2 linked regions of the Homo sapiens genome follow. The protein of the gene in region 2 purifies or fractionates together with the protein of the main gene of each other region. This does not show direct contact. Each region holds a gene or a part of one and is shown on either strand. Other genes may lie near its edges.

Region 1 (3,500 bases), on a different chromosome or scaffold from region 2:
AAAGGGGGGCAATGAGGAAGCAGGAGGGAGATGAGAAAAGGAAAGAAGAAGGGAGAGGAATGGCCAGACCCAGAGAGCAGCAGAGGAGCATGGGGAGCAAGAGCCTGGGACAGGCAGGCACAGATGGCAGCGGTGACCCTGCACCCACCCACCAGCGCCCAGTAAGCCACACCTCCCGCCCCTGCACCCCAGCCTGGGCACCTCTCGGTTTCGGCCCCCTCGTCGGTACTCTCTGGGGGCGCCAAGGACTCCAGGCTCATTGGGCCCTGCGGGGATGAGTCCCCCAGCTCCAGGGGGGCGTCAGCACCTGTGGGGTGGAGGGAGCAGGGCTGGCTGGAAGGCCTCTGCGGCCACGAGACCCACACTCTGGGGGCCTGGAATTGCGGGGGCTAAAGCTACCCAGTGCCTGGCAGACACCACATGGCTGCTCTGTACTTCAGCACGGGACGGACAGATGTTAAGACCTCTCAGAACATGGCCACTAGGGGCAGGAGCATGAAGATGCAACAGAAGTGGGTGCCCCTGTGTGTCCTGGGTGGATGGGGACCCCAGGCCTAGCAAATAGGTCACAAACATCTCTCCCACCCAACCAGACTGCAGCCCCCTGAGGTCGGGAGGGCCCTGGATTCTGTGCTGCCTCCACGTCCATTCATCCTCCCCACCCTCTCATACTCCTTTAGAGAAAAGCAAACGGAGGCTAAGAAAGGGGAGTCATATCCAAGATACTAAATAAACACAAGCAGTCAGCAGAGCTGGTGTGTGAGCCCTGGCCTGGCCATGCAGAGATCCAAGGGCCTGAGGCCACAGCAGTGTAAGGATGGTGAGGGATGAAGCTCATGGGGCTGGCGGGCTCCCCACCTAGGGGGCCAGCAATGCAGCTCAGAGGGTGGACTGGTCATGTACTCAGGGAAGGTTCTGGAAAAGGAAGGGTTGATGGAAAACGTAGTCCAAGGGGGTGGGAGACGCAGCACCAGCAGAGAGGTCAGAGCCTGGGAGCAAAGCTGTGGAAAGGGCAAACTGAGGGAAGGGGAAAGTTATGAATGACAGTGGTGACCAGGAGCAGGGAGAAGTGGATGCTGAGAGCAAAGGGGAGGTGTTGCTGGGGAATGGCTTCTATCTGGGGGTGCCAAGGGGGCAGGCAGCACCCCCACCCTGGATCGCCGGGCCTCATGGAGCCCTGGCCCAGGAAACTCTCACCTGGTTCCCGGTCTGGGCTGTCCAGGGACAGAGGGTGCAGAGAGACTCCAGGGGTGTCCTGCCCAGGAGCCCCGATATTCCGGTCCCGAGAGGGCATCCCCACGCCTCCCTTCCGGTCTGTAGCACCTGGCTTCTCGGCTGGGGAGACAGTGAGGGAGAAAGAGGGAGATAAGAGAACAGTAACTCAAATCCACAACCGCCAGGGGATGCAAGAGGCTGTGCTCAGGCCCTTCCCCACCATGACAAGGAGCCCCTTCCTCCCTCAGACCCAGGAGCCCTCAACCCCTCCTCCCTCAGACACAGGAGTCCAGGCCCCCAGCCCCTCCTCCCTCAGACCCAGAGGTCCAGGCCCCAGGCCTTCCTCCCTCAGACCCAGGAACTCCCCCAGCCCCTCCTCCCTCAGACCCAGGGGTCTAGGCCCAGCCCTTCCTCCTCAGACCTAAGAGTCCGAGTCTGAGCCGCTCCTCCCTCAGACCCAGGGGTCCAGGCCCAATCCCTCCTACCTCGGACCCAGGGGTCCAGGCCCCAGGCCTCCCTCCCTCAGACCCAGGAGCTCCCCCAGCCCCTCCTCCCTCAGAGCCAGGGGTCCAGGCCCAGTCCCTCCTCCCTCAGACCCAGGGGTCCAGGCCCAGCCCTTCCTCCCTCAGACCCAGGAGCTCCCCCAGCCCCTCCTCCCTCAGACCCAGGTGTCCAGGCCCCCATCCCCTCCTCCCTCAGAACCAGGCGTCCAGGTCCCAGCCCCTCCTCCCTCAGACCCAGGCGTCCAGGTCCTAGCCTCTCCCACACAGGCCCCCAGTATGGATGCTATGGCTACAGGTACATTACCATCAACCTCTGCTTTGAGGTGTCGAAAATCTGGAACTGAAACGAGAGAGAATGAGACAGTGAGTGGGAGCAGCTGGGGAAGACAGGGGAGGGCAGAGGCCAGAGCCGCCTTACCCTGGGGCTCTCCCCGGTTCCAGCGGGCGGCATCCAGGATGCTGCTCAGCCCCTTCTTGGTCTTGGCAGGCTCGTCCGACCGCCGGTTCCCCATCACCTGTGAGAGGGCGGGGAGGAAGACCAGGCTAAGCATCTCTGAGACAACAACAAAGCAGAATTTGACGCTAGGTATCCAGAGTCATGAGGCTCCCAGGGCGTCTCTGGAGAGGAAAGGGTCAGGACGGGGCACTGAGGGAAGCACCTTTTTCCGGAAGAAGTTCCTCCCCGACTTCTTGTCTCCACTCTTGGTCCGCACCCCAAGGTGGCGCATGTACAGGCCAATGGCGTTGACCACGGCAGCACTGTAGGGAAGGGACAGTGAGGGCTCAACACACACAAAGACACACACACACACACACACACACACACACACTCACACACACACTCTCTCTCTCTCCCCCTAGAGGCAGAGGCCCGGCCTTCCCATCCTGACCCCACAACTACTTCCTGTGAGACTCTGAGGAGAGATGAGAGGGTTCAAAAGGACAGGGGCAAGGGCTGTTACCCAATGCCCAGGACCCAAGTGTCCAGGCCCCAGGCTCCTCCTCCCTCAGACCCAGGAGTCCAGGCCCCCAGCCCCCTCCTCCCTCAGACCCAGGAGTCCAGGCCCCCAGCCCCCTCCTCCCTCAGACCCAGGAGTCCAGGCCCCCAGCCCCTTCCTCCCTCAGACCCAGGAGTCCAGGCCCCCAGCCCCCTCCTCCCTCAGACCCAGGAGTCCAGACCCCCCAGCCCCCTCCTCCCTCAGACCCAGGCGTCCAGGCCCCCCAGCCCCCTCCTCCCTCAGACCCAGACGTCCAGGCCCCCCAGCCCCTTCCTCCCTCAGACCCAGGAGTCCAGGCCCCCAGCCTCCTCCTCCCTCAGACCCAGGAGTCCAGGCCCCCAGCCCCCTCCTCCCTCAGACCCAGGCGTCCAGGCCCCCAGCCCCCTCCTCCCTCAGACCCAGGCGTCCAGGACCCCAGCCCCCTCCTCCCTCAGACCCAGGCGTCCAGGCCCCCCAGCCCCCTCCTCCCTCAGACCCAGGCGTCCAGGCCCCCCAGCCCCCTCCTCCCTCAGACCCAGGCGTCTAGGCCCCCCAGCCCCCTCCTCCCTCAGACCCAGGCGTCCAGGCCCCCCAGCCTCCTCCTCCCTCAGACCCAGGAGTCCAGGCCCTCAGCCCCCTCCTCCCTCAAACCCAGGAGGCCGCACGCCTCCCCTGCCCCCCTCACCTCTTTTCTTCGTCGGTAGAGATGGTATGTCTGTAGGAGGAAGAGAGATGTTTGTGACATATTTGCTAGGCCTGGGGTCCCCATCCACCCAGGATACATCTCAGGGTTGCTGTCCTGGGA
Region 2 (3,500 bases):
ACCACCATGTCTGGCTAATTTTTTGTATTTTAGTAGAGACAGGGTTTCACCATGTTGCCCAGGCTCGTGTCGAACTCCTGAGCTCAGGCAATCCACCCACCTTGGCCTCCTAAAGTGCTAGAATTACGGGTGTGAGCCACTGTGCTCGGCCCATATAATTTTAATTTAAATGATGGACCTGACAACTTAAAGGCTTCAGAAATTGAAGAAAAGAATCTTTAAGCAAGGTTCAATGTACAACATGTAAATGAATGCAATTTAGAAATTTATGAAAAACCTACTACAAACAAACCTTTTTGCTTGGCAAAATGTGCTATAGGGAAATAATAAAGTAACTTGTAGGTATCTTCCTCCCCACTCATTAAGTACATCCTGCATTACATTTAATAAAATAGCTCCTGCTTTTACCAAAATGATTCAATAGATCCACATACATCTCGTAGTAAAGTCACTCATCTCATTTTAAAGCCATTTTCTGATCCTACAAAAACAGTACAAATATTTAAACAATTTATGATCCTTAAAGCAAGGTTTCAGAAGACTAAGTGTTCATTCTACATAGCTTTTTAGCCTCATTTTTCTGTTATTTTAATTTATTTATTTATTTTTGTGGAGATGAGGTCTCACTATGTTGCCCAGGCTCCTCTCTAACTCCTGAATTCAAGTGCTGCCTCAGCCTCCTAAAGTGCTGGGATTACAGGCATGAACTATCACGCCTGGCTGCCTCACTGTTTTTATATTGTCTCAAGTATAATTTAAATCATTAAAAAAGAGAAATTAAGTGCTATGGGATTTAATATTTATACTATTTTCCCCAAGTAACTGTACAGTCATAATGAAGAGCAAAGTTAAAGAATACATACATTATCTAACTCTATTTTAATTCCAGAAGAAAAAAGACTGAATGAAACCAAATTAGGGGTTGTCATAGTTCATTAACAGAGAAATCTTAACAACTCTGAAATACTAGAAATGACAAATAACAACATTAGGCCATACCTTACATATTCTTTTGTCCTTCTCATGATGTGTAGAGTGAGAGGATTAATGCCTGTTGGTAGTTTCTCTTCTGCAAGACTCAAAGGTATTTCTTCTCCAGTATCCAGGTTCTTAATCATTACACTGGCTAAAATTTCCTGAGGTTAAAAAAAAAAAACAATCACACCAAGATGACCTGCAATTTAATTATCTTTTTGAGTCTACAAAATCCCCTAAAATTTAAGCTAAAGGCTTTTTAGATATATTCAATACTGCACACAATAATTTCTAACATTTTTATTGAGATATAATTCACATGCCACAAAATGCACTCATTTAAAGCATATAATTCAATGGTTTTTAGTATATTCACAGAGTTGTACAACTATTGCCACTAAGTCAGAATATTTTCTGCACCCCAAAAGGAAATTCCCTACCCATTAGCAGTCACACCTCATTTCCCTTTCTTTTTAGCCCCTGGCAAATACCAATCTACTTTCTGTCTCTATAGATTTGCCTATTCCATACATTTCATATAAATCAAATCCTGTAATATATGGCGTTTTATGTCGGTTTCTTTAACTTAACATGATGTTTTCAAGGTTTATCCATGTTGTAGCATGTATCAGTACTTTATCCCTTCATTCCTTTTAATTGCTAAAAAATATAACATGGTATGAATATACCACATTTTATTTATCCATCCAATCAGTGATGAACATTTGGGTTGTTTCCACTTTCTGGCTGTTATGAATGATGATGCTGTGAATATTTGTGTACATTTTTTTGTGTGAACATATGTTTTCATTTCTCATTGGTATATACAAAGGAACGGAATTGCTGGGTCATGGTAACACTATGTTTCACATTTTGAGGAATTGCCAAACTGTTTTCCAAAGTGCAATATTTTAAGAAATGTATTGTTTTAAAGAAACATCAACTAAGATTTTGCTGTAAAATTTAATTCTGAATAAGTTGGCTAATAGGTGCATACTAAGTTTTAATGATAAGAAACCATTAAAATAATAAAAAAATTTATTTTGGTATAACATATATTCATAATATCAAGTTCTTTTATTATTATATTATTTTAAATTTTTTTTCTTGAGACCGAGTCTTGCTCTGTCGCCCAGGTTGGAGTGCAGTGGTGTGATCTCGGCTCACTGCAACCTCCGCCTCCCAGGTTCAAGTGATTCTCCTGCCTCAGCCTCTGGGTAACTGGGATTACAGATGCACACCACCATGCCTGGCTAATTTTTGTATTTTTAGTAGAGACAGGGTTTTGCCATGTTGGCCAGGCTGGTCTCAAACTCCTGACCTCAAGTGACCTGCCCACCTTGGCCTCCCAAAGTGCTGGGATTACAGGAGTGAGCCACCACACCTGGCCTCAATATCAAGTTCTTTTAAAGCCCACTTTCTATAAAATATAAACCTTGCTTTCAATATATTTATTCCACTATGCAACACAGTGAAAGGGCAAGTTTAAGTCAGAGATGCTACATCCAGCATATCAACAAAGACAATCTTCAATTTTCATTTTTTCTTCTGTATTTTTTTTTGTGTGTAACAGCAATAAACTTAAAAAAAATTAAATTGTGGTAAACTACACATAACATAAAATTTACCATTTTAACCATTTTTAAGTGTATAGTTCTGGGTCATTAAGTACATTCACATTGTCATGCAACCATCATTACCATCCATCTCCAGAACGTTTTCATCTTCCCATTATGTTTTTTGTACTTTATGTTTTAAGAACAAGAACAAAAAAATCTATTTCTACCTCATCAGTAAGCTCTCTCCCAGAGTTGGATCTAGGTCTCTGAGGGCCCATCACTTCACCTGCTACAGTCTGCCCATCAGGTGCTTTTCCATTTTCCTGGAAATATAATTTTATAAACAGAAATTAGACTGAATCAATTTCTATAAATTTTCAATTATTACCACATATAATTCTAAAGAATTTCATAATTCAGATAATGGAGTCTGCTGAAAATCTAAATGGAACATTACGTTTCAGTCCTTCATTTTTCCCAGCATGCTGAAAAACATTAGGAACCAAAACTATTGCTGCTCATGAAATAATGTCTTAGTATTCTTGAAAACAAATAAATGTTCTATTTGAACCTGGCCAAAAGGCATTTCTCTACTAAGACTGCTATTAATCTGGACTGTATGTGGCTACCTCAAAGGTAGGGGTCAGAAAACTTCTCTCTATAAAGAGCCATACAGTAAATATTTAAGGCATTTTTGTTCATATAGAGTCTCTGTCACATATTCTTCTTCTTATTTTAAACAACCTTTAAAAATGTAAAGAACATTCTTAGCTTGGGGAACCTCCTAAAGCAGGCCACTACTGACCCCTGCTCTAAGGCTATAACAAGACTATAGTGTCCTATATTCTAGTGTGGTAGCCTGGCCCACCACAGCTACCATGTAAGTAGCTCTGAGTCCCAGAATCTGGCTGTGGTAAAATTAGTGTTATCAAGTCTTTTGTGTAGCCCGCTTCCTAGCATATAAAG

What was found. Proteins that work in one complex are often made in the same cells at the same time.
Region 1: the proteins of WDR44 (region 2) and ARHGEF1 fractionate together in Homo sapiens (co-fractionation; one large-scale study listed by BioGRID). This does not show direct contact.

What each region holds. Positions count from the first base shown.
Region 1 is NC_000019.10:41,893,184-41,896,683, reverse strand, and holds part of ARHGEF1 (rho guanine nucleotide exchange factor 1), read right to left. Parts: intron 3,411-3,500; coding exon 3,381-3,410; intron 2,478-3,380; coding exon 2,378-2,477; intron 2,234-2,377; coding exon 2,137-2,233; intron 2,059-2,136; coding exon 2,023-2,058; intron 1,336-2,022; coding exon 1,198-1,335; intron 308-1,197; coding exon 202-307; intron 1-201. UniProt on the Homo sapiens protein: Seems to play a role in the regulation of RhoA GTPase by guanine nucleotide-binding alpha-12 (GNA12) and alpha-13 (GNA13) subunits. Acts as a GTPase-activating protein (GAP) for GNA12 and GNA13, and as guanine nucleotide exchange factor (GEF) for RhoA GTPase.
Region 2 is NC_000023.11:118,394,606-118,398,105, reverse strand, and holds part of WDR44 (WD repeat-containing protein 44), read right to left. Parts: intron 2,858-3,500; coding exon 2,762-2,857; intron 1,137-2,761; coding exon 1,000-1,136; intron 1-999. UniProt on the Homo sapiens protein: Downstream effector for Rab11 which regulates Rab11 intracellular membrane trafficking functions such as endocytic recycling, intracellular ciliogenesis and protein export.